Linked DNA regions of Homo sapiens: all the other regions are linked to region 5. The links come from fine-mapping of genetic effects on gene expression. A gene starts in region 5. Each other region holds a variant in brackets. All regions are shown on one strand. Distances are between the middles of the regions. Region 1 overlaps GCH1 (GTP cyclohydrolase 1). Region 2 overlaps WDHD1 (WD repeat and HMG-box DNA binding protein 1). Region 3 has its middle 43 kb from the start of MIR4308. Region 4 overlaps WDHD1 (WD repeat and HMG-box DNA binding protein 1). Region 5 holds the start of GCH1 (GTP cyclohydrolase 1).

Evidence for each region. PIP is the estimated chance that this variant, and not a neighbour inherited with it, causes the effect.
Region 1: its variant is fine-mapped to the expression of GCH1 in whole blood (INTERVAL, PIP above 0.99).
Region 2: its variant is fine-mapped to the expression of GCH1 in whole blood (TOPMed, PIP above 0.99).
Region 3: its variant is fine-mapped to the expression of GCH1 in whole blood (TOPMed, PIP above 0.99).
Region 4: its variant is fine-mapped to the expression of GCH1 in left ventricle (GTEx, PIP 0.93).

What each region holds. Positions count from the first base shown.
Region 1 is chr14:54,853,312-54,859,464 of GRCh38, forward strand. All of the region lies in intron 3 of GCH1 (GTP cyclohydrolase 1), which reads right to left. It also overlaps the pseudogene RNU6ATAC9P. Among named protein-coding and RNA genes, the nearest start is that of MIR4308, 22 kb to the right of the region's middle. The variant G/GA (reference allele first, on the strand shown) is at 2,716.
Region 2 is chr14:54,957,218-54,963,370 of GRCh38, forward strand. WDHD1 (WD repeat and HMG-box DNA binding protein 1) reads right to left here. Exons shown (of 26, transcript NM_007086.4): 19 at 5,735-5,955; 20 at 5,521-5,636; 21 at 5,281-5,334; 22 at 375-418. Among named protein-coding and RNA genes, the nearest start is that of GCH1, 57 kb to the left of the region's middle. The variant A/C (reference allele first, on the strand shown) is at 3,291.
Region 3 is chr14:54,831,618-54,837,770 of GRCh38, forward strand. No RefSeq gene overlaps it. Among named protein-coding and RNA genes, the nearest start is that of MIR4308, 43 kb to the right of the region's middle. The variant G/A (reference allele first, on the strand shown) is at 3,159.
Region 4 is chr14:54,941,190-54,947,342 of GRCh38, forward strand. WDHD1 (WD repeat and HMG-box DNA binding protein 1) reads right to left here. Exons shown (of 26, transcript NM_007086.4): 25 at 3,143-3,281; 26 at 1-501. The coding sequence ends at 301. Among named protein-coding and RNA genes, the nearest start is that of GCH1, 41 kb to the left of the region's middle. RefSeq lists an enhancer at 3,682-3,976. The variant T/C (reference allele first, on the strand shown) is at 3,837.
Region 5 is chr14:54,900,369-54,906,521 of GRCh38, forward strand. It overlaps GCH1 (GTP cyclohydrolase 1), which reads right to left and starts at 2,458. Exons shown (of 6, transcript NM_000161.3): 1 at 1,953-2,458. The coding sequence starts at 2,295. RefSeq lists silencers at 1,643-1,702, 1,713-1,762, 2,173-2,812.

The DNA.
Region 1 (6,153 bases), 47 kb before region 5:
CACACAGGTAGTACTAATTCTGATCCCAAACTTTATGAATGTGTCTATGAGTTCCTTTTTCTTTTTCCTGCTCTTCCTAGAATAATGCTAATAGGTAAGTATCGTCCTTGATTTGGGATGGGAAAAGGGAGGACAGAATCCAGACTGTGGCTTTAGTGCTAATTCCAGTGGATTCTCACTAGAATTGCCTCATGCTTTCCCGAAAGTGTAAAATGTACATATGCATTATATCTTGATACGCTGTGCCAAGAGGGGCATTATTAATCTAGTTCACCACACCCAGCATCAGTAGTTGTCAGTTTTAATCTAAACCATTCTTACATTCTTGGACTAAACATCCCTGGGTCATGTTGAAAACAGTACTTCTATACTAGCCTGACATTTTAAGATTCTTACAACTACATTAATCAGTGAGATTTGCCTATCATTTTTTTTTTTTAATGCTAGGCTTATCAGGCTTTGTTATCAAGAATAGGCAGCTTCATCAAATTAATTGACACTTCACAGGTTTCTCTACGCTCTTGAATTATTTATACACATGCAAAATTTGTGGTTACTTGAAAGCTTGAAAGAACACTTATAAAACTGACTGGGTCCAGGCACTTTCCCCCAAATCATTAATTTGACCTTTTCTAATGGTTATTAATGTATGCAGGCTTTCAAACTCTTGGTCCATTCCTTTCTCTCCCCATCTTTTTAAAAAACGTATTCATCAAGATGTAAAGATTTATAAAGCATATTTTTAGTTACATATCGTCTCATTCCTAGATATCAGACTCCCCAGCAACCTATGATACAAGATTTTCAACTTGTAGATTTGTGATTTCTGTTCTTTGGCTTTTTCTAAATTATTCTAAATAAGGAGTTTGGACTTTAACTGAAAAGCTGTGGTGAGCCACCAAAGGAGCAGCATGATCCAATCCACACTTTAGAAAGAACATCCCAGCAGCTCATGAGGGCAAACTGAAGGATCCTCAGAGATGAGAGGCAGGGAGGAGGCAGGAGCTTAACATTCCCTCCAGGAGGAAGATAAGAAAGGCCCAGCAAAGACCTGCAGCAGGGAGGGCAGGAAGGCAGGAAGTGGGGGTGCTGCACCTGCCGGGCAGTGAGCACACGCAGCAGTGGATGGGTTCTGCCTCACTCCTCACCCCAAAATACACTCCAGATGGAGCAAAGATTTAAATATAATAATGTGGCCATACAAGTACCAAAAAAAAAAGAAGTTTGTGAACTACAGAAAAGTTTTAAACTTCTTTATGGAAATATAATACTATAAAGCAAAATCAAAAGACAAATGACGAGCTGGGAAGCATTGTCTGTAGCACCTGACCTGACTGCTTTAACATTCAGAGCTTGTGCAAACCAAGAATAAAAAGACAAATAACTCAGTGGAAAAATTAATACTGGAGCTAAGAACAGGAAGTGTCTGAATAGATTCAACCTCGCTCTATTAAGGAAATGCAAATTAAAATAGATACTATTTTTTACTTATCAGTTTGGCAAAGATTTAAAAGTGTGATGAAAAGTGTGTTGGCCGAAGTGTGGAGAAACATACACCACCCCTTACCTATGTATCTATTTATTAGAGTATAAACTGGCATGGTCTCTTTGGAGAGCAATTTCATAATATCAAAAATTCGGCTACCCTTTACCCATCAAGTTCCATACTAGTAATTTAAACTTCAGATAGATTCAAAGCACACAAAGATAATAAAATTTGTTCACCAGGGTACTTTTTTACTTTTTGGCAAGTCTCAAACTGCAAACTGTACTTATCTATAGCAAATACTGGTTAAATGAATTGTATTAATCAAAGAAATATTAGGTAGCTATGAAAAGAAACTTGGACTTTTTGGACTAAAAGATGTCCAAAGAACTTCAAGGTATTTTAAATTTTTAAAAAGCTGGCCAGGGCCAGGCGCGGTGGCTCACTCCCGTAATCCCAGCACTTTGGGAGGCTGGGGTGAGCAGATCACCTGAGGTTAGGAGTTCAAGACCAGTCTTGCCAACATGTTGAAACCCCATCTCTACTAAAAATACAAAAATTAGCTATGCGTGGTGGTACACGCCTGTAATCCCAGCTACTCAGGAGGCTGAGGCAGGAGAATCGCTTGAACCCAGGAGGTGGAGGCTGCAGTGAGCCCAGATAGTGCCACTGCACTCCAGCCTGGGCGACAGAGAAAGACCCTGTCTCAAAAAAAAAAAAAAAAAAAAAAAAGCTGGCCGGGTGCAGTGACTCATGCCTGTAATCCCAGCATTTGGGAGGCCAAGGCAGGCTGATCACTTGAGGCCAGGAGTTCGAGGCCAGCTTGGCCAACATGGAGAAACCCTGTCTTTACTGAAAATACAAAAATTAGCCAGGCATGGTGGTGCACATCAGTAATCCCAGCTACTGGGGAGGCTGAGGCAGGAGAATCACTTGAACCCAGGAGGCAGAGGTTGCAGTGAGCCAAAATCGCACCACTGCACTCCAGCCTGGCCGACAAAGCAAGACTCCATCTCAAAAAAACACCAAATAAAATAAAATTTTAAAAAGCAAGTTGTAGTACAGAATATAAGATATGATCTTATGTTTGTGCTTGCATAAATATTTTCCAGAAGGATAGTGAAAGAAATCTCTAGTTCTAACTCTGGGGAATGAAAATAGGTAAGAAAAGTTTTCACTTTATTCACTCATTTGTATTTAAATGGTATGTTGCTTTTATAGTCAAAAAA[G/GA]AAAAAAAAATACTGCTCCCTCTGTAATCTAATACTCACCTCACTTACTCTTACTTCCATCAGTCAATCTGGTTCCCATCCACTGGAATAGGCCTTGCTCCTACCCTCTGACTGGTCTTTGCTCATGCATTAACTATACCTAGAGAAACTTCTCCCCCATTTAGAATTCTGCTCATCCCTCCACCTCCAGGTCTATTCACCTGCCAGGCCACAGCCATCATGGCTCCTCTGAACTTGGAGCTACAGCAGGCATTTCCATGGCACTTGCAGTCTTGCCCTGTGCACTCTCCTTGAGGGTGGCTGCCATGTCCTGCTTCTTTAGCCTCCACAGTAGCTGGCACAGTGCCCACCCAACAGGTCAGCCATGGCTACCTGAGATACTACAACTCTAAATTCAAGATTTCGTACATTCACTCAATTATTTATTTATTTATTTATTTTTAGTGACACAGAGTCTTGCTCTGTCACGAGACTGGAGTGCAGTGGTGAAATCTCGGCTCACTGCAACCTCCGCCTCCCAGGTTCAAGCGATTCTTCCATCTCAGCCTCCGAAGTAGCTGGGATTACAGGCGCATGCTACCATGCCCTGCTAATTTTGGTATTTTTAGTAGAGATGGGGTTTCACCATGTTGGCCAGGCTGGTCTGGAACTCCTGACCTCAAGTGATCTGCCCACCTCGGCCTCCCAAAGTGCTGAGATTACAGGCATGAGCCACCTCACCCAGCCGAGGCTCAGTTATTTCTAAGGGAAGAAAATGAATACATGTTCAATGGCTTTTCAGCAACAAAAGAAAGTTCTATTCAAACTAAGTTTATTCTAGAATTCTACTAGAGTTGAGCCAGATCAACTCACTTCTGGCATTTTCTTGTTACTTAAGGCTTTACTGCTTGATATTTGACTTCACTGGCACTGAAAGGTCATTCATTTAAAGGCAAGCATATAACAAACTTCATATATAAGATTAAAATGAGCAGTGAAGTTTTGCTAAGACATTCAGCTTTTATTCCTCTTCATTCTCTAAATATTCTTACTTCTTATAAGGAATAAGTAGTTGGATAAAATCTTAGTCTTCTTTTCTATTTAATAGACTCTTTATTCAAATTTTTTGCAAAATATTTGAAAGCAACATACACTTGGTTCTTTGGCTTCATGTTCCATTTTATTCTTAAATTTTAATCCTATTAGTCTAAGGACAAATCCCCATGCTAATAATCAACTCCTTTGTATTGTTTCATAAAAGCTTAATTATTTGAGATCTTTTCCTTTCACTTGGAAAGGAAATAACTAAGATTATTTCCTTCTACCACCAGGTTGCCATTTATTGTATGATCTCACTGAATCACTCAAGAGTCCATTTCCCATAAAGTGTTAATCATGATCAACAGTTGGTTTTTCAGAGAAGGCTGTTACATTAAGACCAAGGCCTAATGTGATCTGCCAAGCTTTTTTACACTATGAAACTATCCATTACACCTTTCACATATGGACAGTCTGTTATAGGCATCAGCAGTGCTGGAATTTCTATATGGGCAAGGTATAGGGTTAGCAATCTTGCTGACAGGGAGGCCCAGGGGACTGGGCCTACAGCTATGTTTGCACAGTAAGCATGCTGATTTTACTTAGACTGTATATTATAAAACCATAAGAATAACCAATTTTAGTAAAGATACTTTTACTCACAGTTGACATGAAATTGGTTTAATACATCATTAGTTGAGGGTAAGTTACTGGGAAGGGAGTCGTTAATAAAAATTATAGTAAGATTAATTACTCCCAATCACTACCAACACACTTTTTCTCAGCAACTTTTCAGCACTGCCACCAGGGATGGATCACACGCAAGCAGCCAGAATGTTTCTGGATTTGTGCTAAGAGCCTTATTCCAGTGAAGCAATTACAGCTATGATATAATATTCTTTCATGGTGCCAAGCAGCCCTATCTAATAGCAAAATAGCTGAGCAGGAATGAGGTCAGAAACTGGGGAAGTTAAATTTGTCTCTTCTACCCACTTTCTTATTGATCCCCAGAGGAAATGAATGAGAAAGTGGAAGTGAAAACAAAGTAACAGGAACAACTTTAGAGGGCAGTTGTCAGATTGCTGGAGTAGTTTTTTTTTTACAGATTCCAACACAGAATTGAGAAATATCAGGACCACCATTTCACAACTGTGTTAAATCCCAGGGCCTGCATAAAGAAACAGGAACACATCAGAGCCACAGCACAGTCAACTGGTCACAGAGACTCATTTATTCCTCTTCTTTTATTTTTATTTTTTTGAGATAGGGTCTTACTCCATCGCCCAGGCTGGAGTGCAATGGCACAATCTCGGCTCACTGCAAGCTCTGCCTCCCGGGTTCAAGTAATTCTCCTGCCTCAGCCTCCTGATTAGCTGGGATTACAGGTGTGCGCCACCACGCCCAGCTAATCTTTGTATTTTTAGTAGAGATGGGGTTTCACCATGTTGGTGAGGCTGGTCTCAAACTCCTGACCTCAAGTGATCCGCCCGCCTCAGCCTCCCAAAGTGCTGGGATTACAAGTGTGAAAGACGGCACCCGGCCGAGACTCATTTATTTCAATTATGATATGGTCACTATAACCTCAAGTTATTCAAACTTAGCTTGATTATTTTTGAAAAAAAAAAAGAGTAGGAACACTTTACCCGACCCCTTCATCTTGTTCTTAACTTTCTCTCTCTCTCCACACACACACACACCTCCCAGTATTTCCTCCATCACTCAAAATTCACTAACTTTATACGAAGAAACAACAAGGATATTTAAGGGCAATAAAATATTGGTGGCTGGGGCCTACCAGAGATATCTGAACACAAACCCCCATGTTGACTTCCAGTTAAACACAGATGAACGTGTATGTACATCACCTCTCCTAAAACCCAAATAAAAAAGGCAGTAAGGGAATTTTTTAAGGCATGAACCCACAGGATAAACAACAGAAAAGAAGATTGTAGCAGGAAAGAGAAATGAGAGCGAGGAGCGTGAACACTGTATCAGAATAAAGCTGTGCAAAGCCAAGGCAGGCAGTCTTGTGTTTGCAGAAACAAAGAACCTAGACATGAACGGACTGGCCTGCAGGACCCCTGAGATATGCCTGGAGGCATCCAGTGCAGAGCAAGGCAGGGTTGAGGCTGGGGATCCCACAGGGAAGTTTCATTACAAGTCTGAAAGCAGTGTTGTATGAAAGCAAAGAAGGTGAGCACTCCCCTTGACAAGGATAGAAGAGTCCTCAGGCCTGACAACAAGTTCGACAGCAGAGCACTGCAGCTAGACCCCTGCCCAGCTTCTTCCCCAACCCCTCACTGTTAGCTAAACCCCCCTTAAAGGATGGGGCTGGACTGAAGGTAAGCTCAGGACCTCTCCAGTCAGAGAAGGCTCTGCAGAGAAAGAGGTGGGCTGAGACTTCCAGGATGTATGTATCTA
Region 2 (6,153 bases), 57 kb after region 5:
TAGTGTTAGCACTGTATGTTTAAAGAAGAAAAATAAAATCCCAAGAGACTTATTTTTTCTTGAAATTTCTGTTAAGTTTGTATTGCCATCTCATCTTTAGAACTAAATACATTTGGTACAATCCAAATTAAGAATGATACGTATATTCCCAAATACCACATCCCCAAGAAAGACAGAGGTATCTTTCAAAACCATAGGTACTTAGAAGGTAAGTAGAAAAGACAACTCTCAGCCCAAGTGCTGCTTTCTTCTGTTTCCACACAGATCAGTCTTTCATGCCTCCAAGTCTGGGGAGAGTCATCTCATCATTTGGAAATATTTCTTTGTATACAAATGTATTTAAATAATATAAAACATCACTTGGAAGAGTTTACCTTAAAGGGATTTACTCGTCCTTGGCTGCTAAAGGTAACTGCACCTTTCACAAAAAAGAAACCCTTGCTTAATAATGGTAGAAAATAGATGACTTCTGACATCTATAATACTAGACAGAGTATTTTAATCCCCATTAAATGAAAACAAATGTATTTTGCAACTTTTCAAAACTATTAACAACAGATATCCTCTTTCCTACTTCTAAGCCAAAATAAAAGCTATTAAATGTGAACCACCCCAACGTGCCACTATGAAACATATTCAGTATGTACAGATCTTTTATCTTCTGTTACTGCGGAAGAGTGGCAGCTCGTCTGAGCTAAGGTTAGTAATCCCTTTACTTGTGTTCTGCATCCCATGCCCTCCTGCTTTGTCAGAAAACCTGACCTATCAAGTTTCTTGACATCCTACATCTTTGACTTTTCCCTATTTATTGGCCCCTAAAGTCTCCCAACTTAAAAAGAAACAAAAAACAAACCTTCTCTACCCCACATTCCTTCCAGTCACCATTTTCTCTCGCCTCCTCCATCCAGCCATTTTTTTTTTTTTTTGAGACAGAGTCTCGCTCTTGTTGCCCAAGCTGGAGGGCAATGGTGTGATCTCGGCTCACTGCAAAGTCCACCTCCCAGGTTCAGGCGATTCTACTGTCTCAGCCTCCCGAATTGCTGGGATTACAGGCGCCTGCTACCACGCCCGGCTAATTTTTGTATTTTTAATAGAGACAGGGTTTCACCATGTTGGCCAGGCTGGTCTTGAACTCCTGACCTCAGGTGATCCGTCTGCCTTGGCCTCCCACAGTGCTGGGATTACAAGCATGAGCCACCACGCCCGGTCATCCAGCCAAATTTTTCCAAGAACTGTTGACACTATTATCATTTCCTCACCACCCATACATTCCTCCATACAATATAGCACTTCCAGCTCTACCACCCTACAGAATCTCCTCTTGCTAAGGCCCTCAGTGATCTCTACATTGTCAAATCTGGTGGATACCTTTCAGTCACCTTGTTTGCTCTATCAATGGCATCCCACATAGCTGACTGTTCCTTACTTCTTGATACTTTGTCCTCTCTTGACTTCTGAGATACTGCATTCCCTGACTTAGTTCCTTCCTCTCTGGACCTGTGGACTCATTGTGTTCCAATAGTTGGTTCCTCCTCTTCCTCTACCTGATGCTCAAATGTTGGAGATTCCCTAGGCTTAAGCTCATTTTTCTTTTTGCTTTACATTCTCCCCCAATGCTTGCTTACCCATGCTCATGGTTTAAATTGCTATACTTATGCCAATGATTTTCACTTTGTATCTCTTGACCAGAATACTTCCCTGAGCTCCTGATTCAAATATCTGTCTTCACGACATTCTACTCACCTTACAGTAATTCATCATCTTCCTCTCTAAATCTGCTTTTCTCTAGTGTTTCCTGACTTAGGAAATGGCACCATCATTCACTCAAGTACTCAAGCCAGTGTTAACAAACTAATCTCTAATTAAGAGCTTTCCTGGCATGGTGGCTTAAGCCTGTAATCCCAGCACTTTGGGAGGCTGAGGAGGGAGGACTGCTTGAGCCCAGTTTAAGACTAGCATGGGTAACATAGGGAGACCCTGTCTCTACAAAAACAAAAAACAACAAAACAAAAAACCCAAACCAAAACAAAACTAGCCAGACATGGTGACACATGCCTGTGGTCCTAGTTACTTGGGAGGCTGAGGTGGAAAGATCGCTTGGGTCTGGGGGGTTGAGGCTGCAGTGAGCCATAATCACGCCACTGCACTCTAACCTGGATGACAGTCACACCCTGGCGGGGGGAAGAGGAGGGAGGGAGGGAGGGAAGAAGGAAGGGAGGGAGGGAGGCAGGCAGGCAGGCAGGCAGGCAGGCAGGAAATTTCTAGCTGAGCATGGCCACTTGTGCCTGTAATCCGAAAATTTTGGGAGGCTAAGGCAGGAGGGTCACTTAAGCCCAGGAGTTCCAGACCAGCTTCGGCAACAAAGCAAGCTCCTCTCTCTACAAAAAGTACACACAAAAAATTAACCAGGCATGGTGATGCACAACTGTAGTCATAGCTACTCAGTAGGGTGAGGCAGGAGGATCACCTGAGCATACGAGTTCAAGGCTGTAGCGAGCTAGGACTGCATCACTGCACTCCAACTCTGCTCCAGTCTGAGTGACAAAGCAAGATACCCTGTATCCGCACCCCCCCCACCAAACAAAAAAAACAAACAAAAAAACCTTTCCATCTAGCCAATAAAAATTGTTTTATTTATCTCGTTTCTGAAAATACTTTATAAAAGTTTCCCCTTTTGTCTCTCCTGGCAGAGTGCTAGCCCCTTGCGGTTTGGTGCCTCCCTGATTCATGAATCACTGAATGTTCAAATTAATCCTTCAAGATTCAAATGTGCTTAAGTTTTTCTTCTATTACAAGAAACTGAGAATCACTCTTTACGCCCTGAACTCCTACACTCTCTTCATCATCTTCAGAAATAGCTCTCCAACTCTGCCCATTCTTTCTAACATCACCATCACCACCCTAGCTCAGGCCCTTATTCAATCTCATTTGGACTGCCTCTGTAGTTTGTTTGTTTATTTATTTATTTGAGATGGAGTCTCGCTCTGTCGCCCAGGCTGGAGTGCGGTGGTATGATCTCACCTCACTGCAAGCTCTGCCTCCCGGGTTCACGCCATTCTCCTGCCTCAGCCTCCCAAGTAGCTGGGATTACAGGTGCCTGTCACCATGCCCGGCTAATTTTTATGTATTTTTAGTAGAGACGGGGTTTCACTGTGTTCTTCAGGATGCTCTCAATCTCCTGACCTCGTGATCCACCCTCCTCAGCCTCCCAAAGTGCTGGGATTACAGGTGTGAGCCACCACGCCCAGCTTGTAGTCTCTTTATTTTTTAATTTTTATTTACTTCTTCTT[A/C]TTATTATTTTAGATGAAGTCTCACTCTGTCACCTAGGCTGGAGTGCAGTGGCGTGATCTCCACTTACTGCAACTCCCCACTCCTGGATTCAAGCAATTCTCCTGCCTCAGCCTCCCGAGTAGCTGGGATTACAGGCATGAGCCACCATGCCCGGCTAATTTTTTTTTTTGTATTTTTAGTGGAGATGTGGTTTCACCATTTTGGCCAGGCTGGTCTTGAACTCCTGACCTCAAGTGCTCCACCTGCCTCGGCCTCCCAAAGTGCTGGAATTACAGGCGTGAGCCACCACGCCTGGCCTATTTATTTTTTGATACAGGGTCTTGCTCTGTCACCCAGGCTGGAGTGCAGTGGTGCAACCATAGCCTACTGCACCCTCGAACTCCTGGGCTCAAGATATCCTCCTGTCCCAGCCTCCCAAATACCTGGGACTACCGGTGTGTACTACCATGCCTGGCTAATATTTTTATTATTTACTTTTTGTAGAGATAGGGTTTCATTGTTTCCAAGGCTGGTCTCAAACGTCTGGTCTCAAGTGATCCTTCCACCTTGGCCTCTCAAAATGCTGAGGTTACAGACATGAGCCATCACACCTGGCCAGTAGTCTATTATCTGTTCTTCTTCAGCACAGTGTGCCATGCTATACCTCTGCTTAAAACCTACAACAGTCTCTCAGTGACCTTAGAATAAAGAGCAAAATCCTGACCGGGTGTGGTGGCTCACACCTGCAGGTCCAACAACTTTGGGATGTGGAGGTGAGGAAATTGCTTGAGTTTGAGACCAGCCTGGACAACAGAGTGACACCCCATCTCTATTAAAAAAAATAAAATAAAATAAAAAAAAGACCAAAATCCTTAATATGGCCTACACAGATCTGCATGACTTGGCTCCTGCCCATCACTCCGAAACCCTTCAGCACCACTTTCTCTTTGCTCTCTGAGCTTTTCACACCACCCTTTTGCAGCCTTCAGTTCACACATACTGTTCCTTAAGCCCAAATGCTTCTCTTCTGCTCCTGTTCCCATGCACCTTTGCCTTGCTGACTGTTATTCATCCTTCAGGTCTCTGCTGTAAACACTCCATGAGGCCTGCCTTGAAGTCCCTACCCATCCTCCACCACTGGCTAGATGACAGCTATGTGTCATACGCTCTTTTCATATTCTACATGTTTTTTAAGTTAATTTTTTTAAATCAAAGTAACATATGTCCACAGTTTAAAAAGTCAAATGGTACTATAAGGTTTATGCTCCCCACCAAAAAAGGGCCAGCAGTGCCTTACTTCAACCTTCTCTTATCCCCCAGGCCCACTCCCTGTACGCAACCATTTTCAACTCCTTTTTTTTTTTTTTGAGATGGAGTCTCACTCCATTGCCCAGGCTGGAGTGCAATGGCACGATCTCGGCTCACTGCTACCTCCACCTCCTGAGTTCAAGTGATTCTCCTGCTTCAGCCTCCCGAGTAGCTGGGATTACAGGCACATACCACCACCCTCAGCTAATTTTTGTATTTTTAGTAGAGATGGGGTTTCACCGTGTTGGCCAGGCTAGTCTAGAACTCCTGACCTCGTTATCCGCCCACTCCGGCCTCCCAAAGTGCTGGGATTACAGGCGTGAGCCACTGCGCCCAGCCTTCAATTCCTTTTAACTGTTTCTCCAGTATCCTGCATGCTTCCTCAGTGATACCCAGATCTGTCTTCAACATCTGTCTTCTCAGCTGGGCTAAAATAGCATTAAAACAGAGATCAACCACACATGTCTGTTTGACTTCTGTATCCACCATTAAGTAAAATGCCTGACACTCAATAGGCATTTTATAAACATCTGTTAAATGACCATAGCTTCACAAACAACATCTGAGATTAAAAAAACAAAAACATAAACACACACACACCAAAAGTGGCCTTAAGAGTTAAGGTGTATTTGCGTAGATGTGTCACTTTGCAGATGACTTGCAAAATTTCCTTGATATTACAAATTTATAAATATTTCTCACCTGACTTAGCTGAAACATCAGAGGAATTTGTACTTTTGGAAAACGAGTTCTGTCCTACAGATTAAAATAAAGCAATATAATGTAAATGGGGAAAATATAGTCATCCTCAATATACAACAACCAGATAGCAAAGAGGTCTGAAAAAAAGTATGAGTATTCAATTTCCCTCAGTTAAGCAAAATGGGAAAAGCCACATCCATGATAGTTCTCATGATTTATGGGCTTGAAAATGTATCTCACCAGGCTTATGTATTTCTGGTTTTTCTTCATCATCAGCTTCTCCACTGTCCTCAGCATCTTCTTCAACTTGATTTCTGAACCTTGGTTGGCTCCACTCTGTAGCAGTATTGCTGTAACTAAGAGAAAATAATATTATTCAATAAAGAGCTATGCAAAGACCAACTTAACATTCAAGACAGTAAAGGAAAATTCAAACAACTAAATTATTTCTTACCCAGCATTCAGCTTTTTTCTGAAATCTTCTTCTTCTTCTTCCTCTTCCACCTGGGTTGCTGTCAATTCGGCTGCCTTCTCTACAGCCAGTTCACTTAGTTTTTGAGCCAGTATTAATTTCCGAGAGCGAGAAGCATATTTAATGGCTAAATTCACAGCATTTTGAGTCATTAGATCAGCAAGTTCCACACAACGGAATTCTCGCTCCAGTTTACAAGAAAGCTAATCCAAAAAGGGGGGGGGGGGGGAGATCAAATAACATCAAGTAAAACTTTTTAAAGATACTGACACTACTAGTAAAACTGAGACAATAGTTTTCTAGCTACTCTATCTCCCTAATTCTAAGATGCACATTTTTACAAGTTTTAACATCTCTGAAATTGGAATTACAATTAATTACAATTAATGGTGGGTCAGTTT
Region 3 (6,153 bases), 69 kb before region 5:
TAGGTTTTCTTCTAGGATTCTTATAGTTTGAGGTCTTACATCTAAATCGTTAATACATCTTGAGCTAATTTTTTTTTTTTTTTTTTTGAGATGGAGTTTTGCTCTTGTTGCCCAGGCTGGAGTGCAATGGCGTGATCTCTGCTCACTGCAACGTCTGCCTCCCAGGTTCAAGCAATTCTCCTGCCTCAGACTCCCAAGTAGCTGGGATTACAGGCATACACCACCACGCCCAGCTAATTTTGTATTTTCAGTAGAGACGGGGTTTCTCCCTGTTGGTCAGGCTGGTCTCGAACTCCCGACCTCAGGTTATCTGCCCGCCTCAGCCTCCCAAAGTGCTGGGATTACAGGCGTGAGCCACGGCGCCCGACCAGTGGAGCTAATTTTTATATGTGGTAAAAGATAGGGGTCGAGTTTCATTCTATTTATGGCTATACAGCTATCCCAGCACAATTTATTGTACAGAGATTCTGTTCCTCGTTGCTTATTTTGGTTGACTTTGTTAAAGATCAGATGGCTGTAGGTGTGCAGCTTTATTTCCGGGTTCTCTATTCGGTTTCATTGGTCTATGTGCTTGTTTTTTGTTTGTTTGTTTGTTTCATTTTGTTTTTTTGAGAGAGGGTCTCACTCCCATTGCCTAGGCTGGAGTGCAGTGGTGTGATCACAGCTCACTGCAGGCTTGACTTCACAGTCTCAGGTGATTCTCCCACCTCAGCCTCCTGAGTAGCTGGGATCACAGGCGTGCACCACCACAGCCAGCTACTTTTTTGTATTTTTCATAGTGACGGGTTTCACCATGTTGCCCAGGCTGGAATCATGTGATCTCCCCACCTCAACCTCCCAAAGTGCTGGGATTACAGGCAGGAGCCACCGTGCCTGGCTATGTGTCTGTTTTTGTACCATACCATACAGTTTTAGCTACTGTAATCTTATAACATAGTTTGAAGTCAAGTAATGCCTCTGGTCTTGTTCTTTTTGCTTAGGATTGCTTTGGCTATTTGGACTCTTTTTTGGTTCCATAGAAATTTTGGCATAGTTTTTTCTAGTTCTGTGAAAAATGGCATTGGTAGCTTGATAAGAATAGTGTTGACTCCATAGATTGCTTTGGGCAGTATGGCCATTTTAACAATATTGATTCTTCTGAACCATGGGCATGGGATGTTTTTCCACTTGTTTGTGTCATCTATGATTTGTTTCATCAGTGTTTTGCAGCTCTCCTTATAGAGGTCTTTCATCTCCTTAGTTAGATGTATTCCTAGGTATTTTATTTTTTGTGGCTGTTGTAAATACAATTGCATTCTTGATTTGGCTCTCAGCTTGAACATTATTGGTGTACAGAAATGCTACCAATTTGTTTTCACTGATTTTGTATCCTGAAACTTTACTGAAGTCGTTTATCAGTTCCAGGAGCCTTTTAGTGGAGTCTTTATGGTTTTCTAGGTATAGAGTAATATTGTCAGTGAAGAGATAAATTGACTTCTTCTTTTCCTACTTGCCTGTCTTTTCTTTCTCTTGCTTGATTGCTCTAGCTAGGACTTCCAGGACCCTAAAAATTGCAACCAAAACTTCATGTGATCATTTTGCATACTTTGGGTTTAGAGCTAATAAACAAGAGCTTTCTTATGACAAACAATGCTGCAATGAATAATCTTGTATACAAATGTCACCTTCACACACACACATATATATATAAATACATCTAGAGGATAAATTCCCCAAAGAATTACTGGGGCAAATGATATAGGCATTTATTGTTGTTTTAAATAGCAAATATATATATACAGGGTCTTTTATAATCTGATCTTCTGTGTTTATACTCTCTGTGACTTCTAGATCTAAAATGTGCACAACTACATGGCTAAAATTCAATTGCGTCCTCCATGTATCATGTGTGTTAACTTTTCCAGGCTAAATGAGAATTGATTTATTATAAACTGTATTTCTGACTGAAGTACCTCCCATGCTATGTTTGCCTGAGGACAGAGCCTTCTAATTCTACCTGTCGTCTACCACTCTACCCCCACACTGTTTCTATCCGCTGTATTCCAGGTTCATCCTCCATACTGCTGTTTATAATCGCCTCAACTCCAACTTTAGTAATGCTCTACCTTTAGCAAAAATGATGGCTTATAATGAAAAGCAGGTCCACAGTGACTTCACTTTAGACCAGGAAGAATTCTGACCCCACAAAGGGAGCCAGCCTAAATGCCAGGGTGTCGTGGGTTACCCGGACCACTGCCAAGCAGAAGGAATATACTCATTTCTCAGAGAGAGATATTGAGAGGGCTCCTTCTCTCAGAGATCACCTCTACCTAAAGAAAATAAAATTATTTTTCATTGAACTGTACTTAGAAAAGGTAAGTATCCTTTGACTTAGATAAAATCCCTTTTAGAAATAACTTTAGCAAAACCTTCCAGTCTGCTCTTAGCCAGAAAACCCTATTAAGCAAAATACAATTGTCTCAACCCCACAAGTAGTGTTCCTGAAAGTTAGTACCAGCTTTGTTAAAGATAGAAGGCTGCATGCTTCTTGCATTTGGCAGGGTTCATGATTTGATTTTCACTGAAAACAATGTTTTGAAGTATTGGACAAGCAGAGAAATGAAAGAAACATCTGCCTCATTTCTTCTAGGAGAATATTTGCAATACACTTTGAGGCCAAATTTGACAATACATGTATTAAAAGACTTTAACAGAAAGCTAGACAGTGAAAACATTGGCCACCTAGTAATATATTTTTTAAATGATACTCAATGCTGGCAGGGTAGTATGAATTAGTTATATCTTGCTAGACAGAAATTTGGAATATGTATTGAGAGTCTTTTTGGCTGGGTGCAGTGGCTCATGCTTGTAATCCCAGCACTTTGGGAGGCCGGAGGCAGGCAGATCACTTGAGGCCAGGAGTTTGAGACCAGCCTGGCCAACATGGTGAAACCCCATCTCTACTAAAAATACAAAAATTAGCCAGCTGTGGTGGTGCATGCATGTAATCCCAGCTACTCCGGGAGGCTGAGGCACAAAAATTGCTTGGCCTTGGGAGGTGGAGGTTGCAGTAAGCTGAGATCGCGCCACTGCACTCCAGCCTGGGTGACAGAGGGAGACTCCATCTCAAAAAAAAAAAAGAGTCTTTTTAAAATGTGAAGGGGCTGAGGGTGAGTGGT[G/A]TGGTTATAGTAAGGCAACGCGATAGATCCTGTGGTATTGGAACTGTCAGCATCTTGACTATGGTGGGGGATACATAGACCTGTACGTTGCAAAGAAATTAATCACACATGCAAGTGAGTACAAGCAAAACTGGACAAATCAGAATGAGATTGGTGTATTATATCAATGTCAATATCCTGGCTGTGATATTGCACCATCGTTTGGCTAAATGTTCGCACTGGGAAAAACCCAGCAAAGTACAGAAGTGAACTCTGTGTAGTATTTCTTCTAACTGTAGTATTTCTTCATACAGTTATCTCAATAAAAGTTTCCGTGTAAAACTGTGAATCTGCCAAGATAAGTGAGGTGCAAAGTTACCCCTGGGTGAGAGAAAAAATTAATTTGTGTGCTACAAAATTTTAGGTGTAAGACAGTTACAATATGAGGACAGTTGCACAGCACAGGGCCAGGGTGGGGGTTGTAAATAGCCCACCTGAGTCTGTCCTTTGTTACTTAGGGAGGGGAAGACAGAAAGACGGGTGACTTTTTTGTCCCAATAAATCTATACCTAAAAGCCTATCCTTTGGAAATAGAGATGTCCACTGCAGTGTTATTTATAATAAGAAAAAACTGGAAACAACATGACAGCCCATCATTATGAAAATAATCAATACATGTGACATTTATACCATGGAACATCATGTAGCCATTTAAACAAAGATACAAGATAAGGGAGGGAATGACTGTGAGGACTTTAGAGTATCCAAAGTATTACACATAGTTACACAGAATAAGGAGGGACAAATGGAAGAAAACACATCAAAGTGAACTCTAGGAAGAAATGTAAGGCAATCTGGGAAAAGGTAAATGCAGAATATGATATGATATCAAGTAATGGTTGTAACTTTGGGGGGGATGTGATAATGTGCGGGGATTTTATTTAAGTCCTTACCCCTTATCCATTAGTGATACATAGTGAAATAAATACCGATGAAATGATAGACTGTCTGGATGGATTTGCTTTAAATATTCCAGAAGCATCCAGATATTATTTGCACAATTTTAAAAGCAAGTAAAATAAAACAAATGTCAACAGCAGTTATTTTCTGAACTATGCAATTGGGTAACTGGTCTTTTTATTTATACTTCACTGTTTTCTAAGGTTTTTTCCTTTTTTTTTTCGAGATAGAGTCTTTCTCTGTAGCCCAGGCTAGAGTTCAGTGGCACAATTTTGGCTCACTGCAAACTCCACCTCCCGGGTTCAAGCGATTCTCCTGCCTCGGCCTCCTGAGTAGGTGGGACTACAGGTGCCTGCCACCACGCCCAGATAATTTTTGTATTTTTAATAGAGATGGGGTTTCACCATGTTGGCCAGGCTGGTGACTCCTGACCTCACGTGATCTGACCTCAGGTGATCTGCCCACCTCAGCCTCCCAAAGTGCTGGGATTGCAAGTGTAACCCACTGTGCCTGCCCATTTTCTAAGTTTTCTATGATTAACAAGTATAAAAAAATGAGATGGAGGAGGAAAAAAGTAGGATATGTTTAGAGGTATCAGACCAGAGAAATAAGTTATTTATACACAGGCAATTGCAGCAGTGATTATATTAATCTGGAGACAGTCCCTTTTAAGGGACAATTTACCTTTAGACTTATCAGCTGAGTGGTTGCAGATGCCCTTAACCAGGGACGATAGAAACGATTGTTCACAGAGTGATCCACACAGCTGTTCTCCTGCCCAAATTGCCTGGGAAGGAGCTACTGGCTTCCTGTTGGGTTCTGTGGGTCTGAATTTTTGTATCTTAGGCTAGTCATTCTTAACTGAGGGAGCCCACCAGAATAACCAAGGGCAATTTTCTTTTTCAAACTATAATTACAAATACTGAATAGTTCCTCACAGGGTACAGAAACATTGTCTAAAAGTTCCCTAGGTGATTTGGATAGGCACACATGGCCAATAGTCCCTCATTTAAATAAACGTGTGTGCGTGTGTGTGTGTGTGTGTGTGTGTGTGTGTGTGTAAATATGCCTTAAATATTTGGGGAAGTATATGTAAGAAAGTGGTAAAGTGGGCCAGGCGCAGTGGCTCACGCCTGTAATCCCAGCACTTTGGGAGGCCGAGGCAGGCGGATCACCTGAGGTTGGAAGTTCGAGACCAGCCTGGCCAACATGGTAAAACCCAGTCTCTACTGAAAATACAAAGTTAGCCGGGTGTGGTGGCGCATGCCTGTAATCCCAGCTACTTGGGAGGCTGAGGCGGGAGAACCGCTTGAACCTGGGAGGCAGAGGTTGTGGTGAGCCAAGATCACGCCATTGCACTCCAGCCTGAGCAACAAGAGCAAAAACTGTGTCTCAAAACAAACAAACAAAAAAGTGGTAAAGTGGTGGCTTTGGGGAAAAGAACTGGGCAGCTGGGGATGGAAAGGGAGAGAGACTTTTCAAGGCATATCCTTTTGTGCTTTTCACATTATATGCAAGTGCATATATTACCTATTCAAATAACGTGAAAAGTGAAAGAAAAAAACAAATTTTAAAAGAGCCCCTGCTTGAAACACTCAGTTTGCCAGAATCTGCTTTTCTTTTGCTAAGGTGGTCAAAGTTCTGTAAGGAGGACACATTTTTCTTTTGCAGATGATTTTGCTAAAAAAAAAAAAAATTCAGAGAAAGCATCTAATGACTTTGAAAGAACACCAGAATAAACATAATGGATTTTACATTCTGATAGTTACACAAACTCCTCACCAGTTTAGAGTTACACCTTCTACCATTAGGAAGTACATAAAGTCAGCCTACATGCAGGAGACAAAGATTTTCATTCTGCCATGAAAGTAAAGAATTTCATTAAATATCTCTGATGATAGCAGCTGCCTGGCTTACTTGGGAGCAGAGGTGAAGGTAAATGTTTCCTTAATTATTTTGTGATGTTTGAATTTTGTGCTAACCACAGAATTACCAGTTTTTATTTATTTTTTTTAATTTGAGCATTTAAGACAGTGTGATTACATGGAACTACAAG
Region 4 (6,153 bases), 41 kb after region 5:
AATGATTTTTCAAGGTTAAGAAACAAATTCAAATTGGTTGGAGCTTCAACTCAGTAATTACAATCACAATGCATCTCTGAAAGGCCCTGCATTTGGAGGCAGAGTAATCTGCAAAGATGATAGTTTTTACATATGTCCTGTTACCTACACCAATATAATTACTACATTATCTTATAAAGACAAACAGTTGCTTCAAACTCTTTAAAAAATATATATATAATGAGTTTCCCAAAGACTCGAGTCTATATTCAAAGATGAGTAAAAAAAAATCCATTACTTCCCTAGGGTCACTTTCTTCCTTTACTCCTGCTTAAATGCAAAAGCTGATAGTTTCTGATTTGTAGAAAAATCTAAAGGTTTCTGCTTTTTAGACAAATTCAGGTTCTCTTTTGCTTTTTCTTCCTGGTTTTCTGTTTCATCACTTTCATCAACCACACGTTTTCGCTTCTTTGCTTCAGTTCCTTCACTTGCCGTTTCTCCTTTGGCTTTGTTAGCCCACACCTTTGTAAAATGGCAGGAGTGAAAAGGAAAGATTTTTAGAAAATAACAAATAAGAAGTAAATGATTTATTTACTTTTCCAGGTAATATTTTTATATATAAAGCAGAATAATTAGCACTTGAATTAAGTGTTCTCATTGTTAACAAATCTTTTATTACTTAAATGCAGAGCACATTAAAGATTTACACTACTTTTATATCTCAATCTAAGCTTTGCTTATATTAATCATATTAGTTGCAAAATACTATAATTGCAGTACTATTTAAAAATGAAACTTTTGGCCAGGCACGGTGGCTCATGTCTGTAATCCCAGCACTTTGGGAGGCCGAGGTGGGTGGATCACGGGGTCAGGAGACTGAGACCATCCTGGCTAACACAGTGAAACCCCGTCTCTACTAAAAATACAAAAAAATTAGCCGGGCATGGTAGCGGGCGCCTGTAGTCCCAGCTACTTGGGAGGCTGAGGCAGGAGACTAGAGTGAACCCGGGAGGTGGAGCCTGCAGTGAGCTGAGATCACGCCACTGCACTCCAGCCTGGGCGAGAGCAAGACTCCGTCTCAAAAAATAAATAAATAAATAAATAAATAAATAATAAAAATGAAACTTTTTATTCTAAGATAATTGCAGTTTCACATGCAGTTGTATGAAATAATACAGAAAGATCCTGTGTAGCCTTCACCCAGTTTTCCCCAGTGGTAACATTTTGCAAAACTATAGCCCAACAATCACAACTATAGGGAACTGACATTGAAACAATCCCATTTTACTTCTACTCATTTGAGCGTATGTATGTATTTACTTTTATTGTGGGTTGGTTTGTTTACCACCACAGTCAAAATACAGAACCTCTTCCCCAAGCCCCAACTCCGACTCCAACCCCTGGCAACCACTACTCTATTCTCCATCTTGATCATGTTGTCATTTCAGGAATGTTATATAAATGAGTATATATTCTTTGGGGTTTGGTTTTTATTCACTCAGCAAGAGCCAGACAAGGTCCATTCATTTCATCTGTCTCTAAAATCTCTTTTAATCTATAATAGTTCCCCACTCCTACTTTATTTCCCTGGCCATTTCAAGGGCTCTTCAAGCTGTAGAATTTCTCACATTAACAAACTGGATTTAAGTAAATGTTTAGGGTTTACCTTAAAAATACTGATTACATTTTTAAGTATTCAAAAACACAATCACAGACTTTGCCAAGTCTCTTCCTCTTTTGCAGTGTAAAGTCTTATTTATTTAGACGCCATTTTATTGAACAACAAATGAGAAACATAAAATTGTAAATGAGGTTCTAAATGACGCTAAAGGTGTTTAAACCAGTTTCTGGCTTCCTCATTATGCAACACCTTTTTCATAAAACCCAATTTACCAAAGCAAGTATCTACGTTACTAGGTGCCTGTGCTGCGCCCTGCCATTCCTGGGGAAGTGAAACCTGAGGATTTAACTGGTACACCACACACATTCCTTCCACTTCTAACTGAGAGATTGTGCCTTCCTTCCTTCACATGGCAGAAGTTTATCAGAAGCAAGCCAGCCACCTGTCCTAATTTCCATGTGAAAGGCTGGAACAGAACACCAGTCTTTTTCCCAAAAGGAATAGTCTCATGTAGTATTTAATGTGTAAGTAGATACAATTTTTAAAAATTCTGCTTGCAAGAACCCTAAAGTAGTATTCAAAAAATGTGAATTCATTTTTACTTATTAATTTTTTTCCCCCTAGAGACCCGGTCTCACTCTGTCACCCATGCTGGAGTACAGTGACACAATCACGGCTCACTGCAGCCTTGACCTCCTGGGCTCAAGTAAGTGATCTTCCCACCTCAACCTCCTGAGTAACTGGGACTACAGGTGTGTGCCACCATGCCAGGCTAATTTTTAAATTTTTGTAGAGATGGTGTATCACTATGTTGTCTAGGCTGGTCTCAAACTCCTGGGCTCAAGAGATCCTCCTGCCTTGGCCTCCCAAAGTGCTAGGATTACAGGCTTGAGCCAACGAACTCAGCTTGACACTTTTGATTTTTAACAAATGCATCTTTTCTTGGGGTATTCTCCTAACTTAAAACATACAGGAACTTATAGAGATTAAAACAGTAAACCGTCAAAAAATTAACCATCCAGCCTGGGCAACACAGTGAGAGGTTGTCTCTATAAAAAAAAAAAAGAGGACAATTGCTTGTGCCCAGGAGGTCGAGGTGGCAGTGAGCCATGATCACACCACGACACTCCTGCCTGGGTGAAAGAACAAGACCTGCCTCAAACAAAAACAAAACAAAAAACCCATCACCATTACATAATAATTACTACATATCCATATTACCATATATCCGCACTTACTTTCCTCTTTAAAAAGTTTGGTGGATGTATTCAATTTCCAAAAACAGAAAAAGGCTTTTCCTTTTTTTTTTAGTTGTCATGATCGTTATTATCTTTGTTGTTGTTATTATTATTATTAGAGACGATGTCTCACTATGTTGCCCAGGCTGGTCACGAACTCCTGAGCTCAAGTGATCCGCCTCGACCTCCCAATGTGCTAGGATTACAGGCATAAGACACCATACCCAGCCAAAAGGCATTTCTATAAGAATTTTTTAAATCTGGGAATTCACTAAGATCTCAATCTCGGCACAATTATCCTTACCTTTCTTTCTTCAGTTGACAATACTCTAAATCGAATCATTCCTTCTTTTATTATGTCTGCTTCATCTGAAAAGTCAGGATTGTCAGACAAAATATTACTTCTATTTTCTTCTAACCACATCTGGAACCCGGTCTTTGGCCTAAAATCACAATTATGTGAAAACATTTTATACTTAAGACAGAGTTTAAAGTGCCTCATGATTTTAAGTTAGTAATCAACCATAAGTCTCTGACATCTATTATATAAAGTAAGGAAGACACAGTTACACTTGTTAATTCATGTTACTTTTTTTTTTTTTTTTTTTTTGAGACAGAGTCTCACTCTGTCACCCAGCCTGGAGTGCAATGGCGCGATCTCAGCTCACTGCAACCTCCGCCTCCTGGGTTCAAGCGATTCTCCTGCCTCAGCCTCCCAAGTAGCTGGGATTACAGGCATGCGCCACCACACCTGGCTAATTTTTTGCATGGGGTTTCACCATGTTGGTCAGGCTGGTCTCAAACTCCTGACCTCACGTGATCTGCCCGCCTCGGCTTCCCAAACTGCTGGGATTACAGGCATAAGCCACCGTGCCTGGCCTCATATTACTTTAAACTGCCTGGAGACTGCAGGATCAATGAACTGGAAAATCCTTTGTAAGGTCAATTCAAAAGGATCACTCACGTTTGTATTTTCCAAGTGCAGCAACCATGAACTC[T/C]GTACTTTCAACTTTTTAATGAATGTTGACAGGCTCAAGGTCTCCAACCTCACTTAGCCCTTGTGGCCTACCACATGTCCTTGGTAGGCTCTTTTTCTATTTCCCCAAACCAGCTATTTGAATTCCTCACGACTTTTCTCAAGCCCCTTTGCCATCGCCTCACCCTTGCTCTCAGAGCTGACCTGCATCAGCATTAGGTGAAGCACGGACACAGCACATTTGTACATTTCATTAGATTCCACTCACAATACAAATTGTCTTTAAGTCACACAAGTGAAGGTTTAATGCAAATATTTAACATTTACTGATCACTTACTATCTACCAGGCACTACTCTAAAAGCTTTATGTATAGTACCTCATTTAAATGACAATAACACTATGAGATGGATACAGTTATTATCTCCATTCCATAAGTGAGAAAAGGGAGGCTCAGAGATGTGAAATAACCTATCCCAGGTTACACAAACAGTAAAACTCAGACCTGGGATCCAACAACCAGGCAATTTGACTCCAAAGTCTATGTTTTTTTGTAGAGATGGAGTCTAGCTCTTTCCCCTATGCTGGAGTACAGTGGCTCTGTATTGGCTTACTGCAACCTCCACCTTCCAGGTTCAAGTGATTCTCCTGCCTCAGCCTCCCAAACAGCTGGGACTACAGGTACGCGCCACCACACCCAGCTAATTTTTGTATTTTTAGTAAAGACAGGGTTTCACCATATTGGCCAGGTGGGTCTCGAACTCCTGACCTCATGATCCACTCGCCTCGGCCTCCCAAAGTGCTGGGATTACAGGCGTGAGCCACTGTGCCTGGCCCAGAGTCTCTTATGTTTAACCCAGCAGCTATACGCCCCTCACTAGGCTGAACCTAAATGAATCCTAAATAAAAAGTCTAAACTTTTTAAGGTTAAAAAAATTTTTATTAAAAAATTACTAGTATGACCATAACCATTTGCCCAATTTCTGAAAATATGCAAATTTTAAGTAATCTTAACGTAAACCGATTTCCAGAAAAATAACAGAACAAATCAAAACAAGTAAAAATCAAGGTATAACAAAGGTTCCTGAATTTCCAAAAATTAATGAAGACCCATTTTAATGAAACTTGGGGCAATGTCACAAGTCTACTTAGTGGCCTGCAATCATCTACTTCTAAACAGCTATTTTTAAAAAGAAAACCAAAATTGAACATTTCTTTCTTTGTTTTTTAAAGAGACGTGAGTCTCACTATGTTGCCTAGGCTGGCCTCAAACTTCTGGGCTTAAGCAACCCTTCTGACTCAACCTTCTGAGTGGCTAGGACTACAAGAGTGCACAGCCACCTGGCTAAAACTGGACATTTCTGATTAAGTATATCAACATCTGTGACAAAATATTAGTTTCAATAGTGGTAATTCCTTAAAATTTCAAAAGTAAGTTTTTTGTATAACCAACTGATAGTATGAAAAATTAAATTATCAATCTTCTTTGTTGTTGTTTTAAGAGAAAGGGTCTTGCTTTGTCGCCCAGGCTGGAGTGCAGTGGTATAATCAGCTCACTGCCACCTCAAATTCCTGGGCTCAAGCAATCCTCCTGCCTCAGACTCTCAAGCAGTTGGGACTACAGGCATGTGCCACCACACACACCTGGCTGATTTTAAAACTTTTGGTAGAGATGGGGTCTCCCTACATTGCCCAGGCTGGTTCCAATCTCCTGGGCTGAAGCTAACTGATCATGTTGGCCTTCCAAAGTGTTAGGCTTGGCCAGGTGTGGTGGCTCACACCTGTAACCCCAGCACTTTGGGAAGCCGAGATGGGCAAATCGCTTGAGGCCAAGAGTTTGAGACCAGCCTGGCCAACGTGGCAAACTCCATCTCTACCAAAAAATAACAAAATTAGTGGGCATGGTGGCACACACCTGTAATCCCAGCTACTCAGGAGGCTGAGGCATGAGAATTGCTTGAACCCAGAAGGTGGAGGTTGCAGTGAGCTGAGATTGCACCAGTGGACTCCAGCCTTGGTGACAGGGCAAGACTGTCTCAAAAAAAGTGTTAGGCGGGCCAGGCATGGTGGCTCACACCTGTAATCCCTGCACTTTGGGAGGCCAAGGCGGGTGGATCACCTGAGGTCAGGAGTTCAAGACCAGCCTGACCAACATGGAGAAACCTCATCTCTACTAAAAATACAAAATTAGTCGGGCATGGTTGCGCATGCCTGTAATCACAGCTACTCAGGAGGCTGAGACAGGAGAATCACTTGAACCCAGAGGCAGAGGTTGCAGTGAGCCGAGATTGTGCCATTGCATTGCAGTCTGGGCAACAAGAGCAAAAAGAAAAAAGTGTT
Region 5 (6,153 bases):
CCGGCTAATTTTTTTGTATCTTTAGTAGAGACGGGGTTTCGCCATGTTGACCGGGCTGGTCTTGAACTCCTGACCTCAGGTGATCCGCCCACCTCGGCCTCCCAAAGTGCTGGGATTACAGGCGTGAGCACCGAGCTCGGCCAACCAGAACAGTTTTCTAATGTGGAATGATGTGTTCTTTGCAGTTATTAATCCTCTTTAAATGAATCTTCGCTCATGAGATATTTCAGCTAACCATTTCTCAAGTAAATCTGTGAGTCACTTTAGATAATTCTGTGACCTGTCTCAGGGTCAGAAATTCCTCTCTCTTTGGGTAATTAGATCCATGCTAGATTACAGAACACTGTCCTATGAATTCTCTTTAAGGGAGGATTCCCAAAGCCTGGCCGATGCTGTGAAGTAAACCACTTTCTGTGTCTGCAAGGGGCAAAATGAGTAAGGCCTTAAGAAGACATTTCATTACATTGTGAAATATCTCACACACACACACACACACACACACACACACACACACACACACAAATTTAAAGCCCTAGACCTCCAAAGAGCTGATCCCACAGAAAACTGAAAGTTTATTTTTCAGTCTTTGTATTTTGAAATCTCTTCTGAGATTCCAAACTTTTGCAATTGAGGGGTAAAAAAAAGTGAATTTGGAAACAGAACTAGAAGTCACTGCCGGTTTTAGAGTGTAGCATCATTTCCTTTTGGGGCCCCGTCTCTTTCACATTCTGATTTCCCACCCTTCCTTTGGGGTGTGGAAGACTGGGCAAAAAATAACTTTCTTTTTCCCAGGGTCTATTTGGTGGAATCGCTCTACACTCCTTCAGAGAAATAACTGGGGCAGGGAGATTGCCTTTCCAGCGCACTGTTTTTCTTTCAAAAAACAGTGAACGGTAGAATGCTTCTTAGGGCAAATAAATAAATGTCACCAAGACACACGGAAGGTGTAGACTGGAAAATAATGTCTTTGGTCCCAGCTGTAGAAGCCAGAAGCTTTATTTTTTTAAACACAGACCAATACTGCTTCTCTGGCCAACAGGCAGCAAAGTCCCCATTTTCCACTCTCCATCACCCCATCTTGCATCCTACCCACACTGATTGCATCCCCACCCTCTGGGTGAAAAGCCGACACGCCTCAGACGCTAACAGCACCGGGTCAACCCGGCTTTATTTTAGGGTGGGAGGGTGCGGGGATGAGACTGAGTCCTGGAACCCACGGAGCCCTCCGAATCCCGGAGTAGCTTTACTGCTTTTTGCGGGGTTGGGGGTGGGGGGAGGAAACAGATTTCAGCAGCAAACTCACCCAATCAACCTCACACCTCAAACTCCGGGGAAGCCCGTGCCCAAAATTGTGCCGAATTTTGTAAATGTCCTGAACTGGAGTAAACTTGAGGTGGACAAAAAAAAAAGCACAACTCTAAGACTCCGATCCCCTGGCAAATCAGTGGGAATGCAGGTCCCCGAGGTTTCGGGGAAGGATCGCGCCGAGGCTTCAATCCAGATACACACCCTGACAATGGGATCTCAATAAGGAACTACCCAGGAAGCCGTCGCCGCAGCAAGTGCCCAGGTGATCCTTATCGTGGGCAAGTTTGGAACCGCAGGTACCCCGAGAATCCCGCGCTGGGCGCTCAGGCGAGAGGGCTCCGGGCTCCCGTCCACGCCCACCCGGGGCGTTCTAGGAGGGCTGCGCGCTGGGAGCGGGAAGGGCCCCTGGAAGGCGGCTGCAGCGAGTTCCGGGGCTGAGAGGTCGCTGCCACCCAGGAAGCCCCGACTGTGCCCCACGCAGGGCCTCGGCAGGGCGGCAGGCTAGGGCGGGTTCGGAGGTGACAGCGCCCGGCTTCCTGCGCCAAAAGTGAGGCAACTCCGGAAACTTCCTGGAGCCGGCGCGCGTTTCCTGCAAGCACCGCCCCCGCCGCCCGCACGCTCTAGCAGCCCGCGGGCGCACTGACCTGAGATGGTCTCCTGGTAGCCCTTGGTGAAGAACTGCATGGCCGAGGCCGCCCTCCAGGGCGTCTTGAGCAGCCCTTGCCGCTGGGGGTTCTCGCCCAGCGAGCTCAGGATGGACGAGTAGGCGGCTGCCAGGTTAGGGAGGTTCAGCTCGTTATCCTCCTCGCTGCGGGGCCGCTCGCCCTTCCAGCCGTCCGCGGGCTGCGCGCTCTTGGCCTCGGGCCGCGGGGGCTTCTCCGCCGGCCTGCTGGGCCCGGGCCGCGGCGGATCCCGCTCGGGGAACCCATTGCTGCACCTGGCGCCCCGCGGCTTCTCCGCCGGTGCCCGCACAGGGCCCTTCTCCATGGACCCGCCGCAGCCGCTGCCGTTCGGGAAGGACCCCGGGGCGCTTCGAGGTCTGCGGCTAAACTCCGCCGGTGGCCGCGGACAATGGGCTGTGGCCGGAGTCACCTGAGGAAGGTACGCAACCTGCTTAGATCACACTCCGAGCCGGGAGCGGCCACAGGCTGGAAAGCCCGGCCGCGCCTCCTTTTTATGGCCCGGCGGCTCAGCCTGCGCCGCGGAGCGCTCCCATTGGCCGGCCCCGCCTCGCGTCACGGCCCTCGCCGCGCCCCTCGGCCTCCCGCCCCCGGGGTCCCCAGCAGGGGTCGCGGCTCCGGAGACGCCCGGAGGGGTTCGCAAGCGCAGGGAGGGAAGGAAAAGGGCGCCGGCCCCTAGGATCAGGCGGGACCCCTCCACTTATTGCGGAATGAGCCGAACCCGAAAAGAGGCAGTCGTCCAGGAGCTGGGATCTCAGTGAGAAAGACGCGGTCTGGGCGCCCAGTCGCCCCCTCTTCAGGCCAAGAGGGCGCTGCATTGAAGGGCTCCGGTCCCCTCGCCCTGTGAAAGATCAGCAAACAGGTGGCCTTGCCTGGAGAGAGACCGAGTTAAGCCACCGATTAGGAACCAACTCTTAAGCTTTCAAGGCAAGAGAATAATGTGACTTCAGACTCTTGGGTTTAGTTAAAAACGCACCTGCCACCTAGGGGCCAGGTGGCACCGCTGTCGGGGCAAGTGTCACATCAAGTGGCCCTTATGTGGGTCCCTATGTCTAGAAGGATAGGATTTATGGTTGCTAGAACTTTGATCCTGGAAAAATTGATTTGCAAACGAAGATAGGACTTTCACTTAAAATCCATTTCCGTCGGTGGCTCACGCCTGTACTCCCGGCGCTTGGGGAGACCGAGGCGGGAGGATCGCTTGAGGCCAAGAGTTCGAGACCAGCCTGGAAAACATAGCAAGACCTCATCTCTATAAAACCCATCGCATTTTCTAGAAACGCAGTTGTGCAGATTTGGTGCTCAATTGTTTTACAGTTCCATGCAAAGCGTCTTTCCCCAGATGTTGGTACAAATTGTGAAATGCTATTCACCAACTGAACTCTTAACCAGTGACATCTGCTGTAACTGTTTTCTTTGAGATTAATAAATGGACCTTTTTCCTCACTTGAGGGATTATCTCATAATGCCGAAGGTGAGCTTTAAAACATGTATCAAAATAATATTTTTTTTCTTTTTTTTTTTTTGAGGCTCACTTCATCCTCCGCCTCCTGGGTTCAAACGATTCTCCTGCCTCAGCCTCCTGAGTAGCTGGGATTACAGGCACCTGCCACCATGCCCGGCTAAATTTTTGTATTTTTAGGAGAGGTGGGGTTTTGCCATGTTGGCCAGGCTGGTCTCGAACTCCTGACCTCAGGTGATCCACCTGCCTCGGCCTCCCAAAGTGCTGGGATTACAGGTGTGAGCCACCATGCCTGGCCTAATGTAGATTTTCTGACATAGAAGCAGGTATTAATAGGCTTAGGATCAAACAAACCAATAGGGAAGCCTGTGGAATTATTCTATGCTAACAATGTAGCTTGGTCATTATAATAAGTAATTAGTATTTATGATACATCTGCTCTAGGCGCAGCCCCGTTGGAAACATTCAGGAAAGAAATATGGACATTGCCTAGCCTTGTAGGCACCTTTACTCCAAAATGGAAGAAATGTTCATATCAGTGGGGTTATTTATTTATTTATTTATTTATTTATTTATTTATTTTTAAATTTTAATCTATTTATTTAAGAGCGGGTTATGAGACTGGCTAATTTTTGTATTTTTGGTAGAGATAAGGTTTCACCATGTTGCCAAAGCTGGTCTCGAACTCCAGGGCTCAGGATTATAGGCCTGAGCCACCGTACCCGGCCCAGTGGGGTTTTTAAATAGAGAATATGAACATCCTTTGGAAAACCTCTTTGTCATTTTCCTCTTTATTAAAATTTTTAAATTTTTTATTGTAGGTTTTTATTGGGAGTGGGGCCCTGCAACATTTTTTTCCTCTAACTGTGCTGCCCACTGTCTGCTGATACCTCCTGGTCAGAATTATCTGCTGGGTCTCAAGCTATTTCAAGCATAGTTGAAGACAACATTCAAAGGATGACCTTGCATTTAACAAATGAAAACAAAGATACTAAGTGAGGTACTTTAAAAATGGAGAGAGTAGATAGAGATGCTTTCAGTACGAATTTATTTTTAGTGGCAATCTTTCGTCTTCCTTTAAAAACATGTGTAAAGATTAACTAATATTGTATTCCACAAAGACAGTTTCTAATGAAATTTTTACCCTAAAAATTAACATTTTCTTACACGTATTGCCACTGAGGCACCTGCACCTTTGTTGCAGGACAGGGCCTCTGGATACATGCTAACTTGTAAAATGGAGGCAGTGCCTTTCGGCCAAATGCCCAAAAATAATACAAGAAAACTTTGAAATCACCAACATTATATGAATAATTTAATAGTAAAATGTAGATAGTTGACAAGGATGGTTATAAGTAGCAACAGGAGAAAAAAAGAGGAATAAACCAAAAGGGAAGTAGGTCCCAGATAATTTATTAGCATAAAATGGTTCAACAGTAATATTATGAGCATTTACAGCCAGGAATTGTTACCGCATCCATGTTTTTCACCCAGTAAGGGATTCATTTTCAGCTTGGACCCAGTCTGGGAGTTTCTTTCTACCAAAAAGCCAAGGAATTTTTTAAAGTCTCTAATTTCTAGGACAGCAGCAGAACAAAGAGGCAGATGAGAAAGACACACCAAGTCAGAGACTGAACACTGCAGTGCTACAGAAATGTACAAAGAGTTGTTTGCCAAGTGTGATATGATGATACATGTATATGTAGGTTTTCAGCCATAGTACCTGGTTCATAACTCACAGTCTTTTGTTACAATGTTGGGGCACTTTAGGCCTCAGAAAATAGAATCAATCTCTCTCTCTCTCTCTCTCTCTCTCTCTCTCACCTTCTGCTCCCCTTCCACTCACTAAAGGCAGGACTCTAATCATCTCCCGCCTTTCTGATTACGGATCATAAACCCTCATTGCAAACAGGGTCCTGCCTCATACCCTGGAGGAAGCATGGCTGCACAGAGAGGTCAATCACACCTTGACACGGCTGTCCATGCTTCAATCATGCCTATACAACGAACATAAAAGGCCCAGACGGCAGGGCTCAGGGAGGTTTTGGACAGCTGAATATGTGGAGGTTCCTGGAGGGTGGTGTGCCCAGGGAGGGCATGGAAACTCCATACCTCTTACCCCATACCTCACCCTATGCATCTTTTCATCTGTATCTTTTGTAATATCCTTCATAATAAACTGGTAAACGTAAGTGTTTCCCTGAGTTCTTTGAGTCACTCTAGCAAATTAATTGAACCCAAAGAGGGGGTTGTGGAAACCCCAACTTGAAGCCAGTCAATCAAAAGTTCCAGAGGCCCAGACTTGTGAGTGGTGGAAAGGAGGGGCCAGTGTTGGGGACTGAGCCTTCAACTTGTGGGATCTACAGCTATCTCCAGGTAGGCAGAATCAGAATTGAATTAAATAAGAGGGAGGACACCTAGCTGATGTCCCCTGCTTGGTGTGTGGGAGAAAACCCCCACCCATTTGGTCACAGAGTCTTCTGTGTTGACTGTTGTTGTGGTATAACAGCAGAAGAAAACCACAGTTTCAATTTGTCCAAACACCAAGGGTAATAGACAAACTAACATTGGGTATTTGGCAACAGTAATTGGAAAAAAGCAAATTTAAGTGAACTTGATGGAGGCTCTATACTTGAAATTCAAACTCTGGAGGAGATTTTGGATCAAGGTAGAAAGGTACAAAGAAAAGGTGGCCGGGCATGG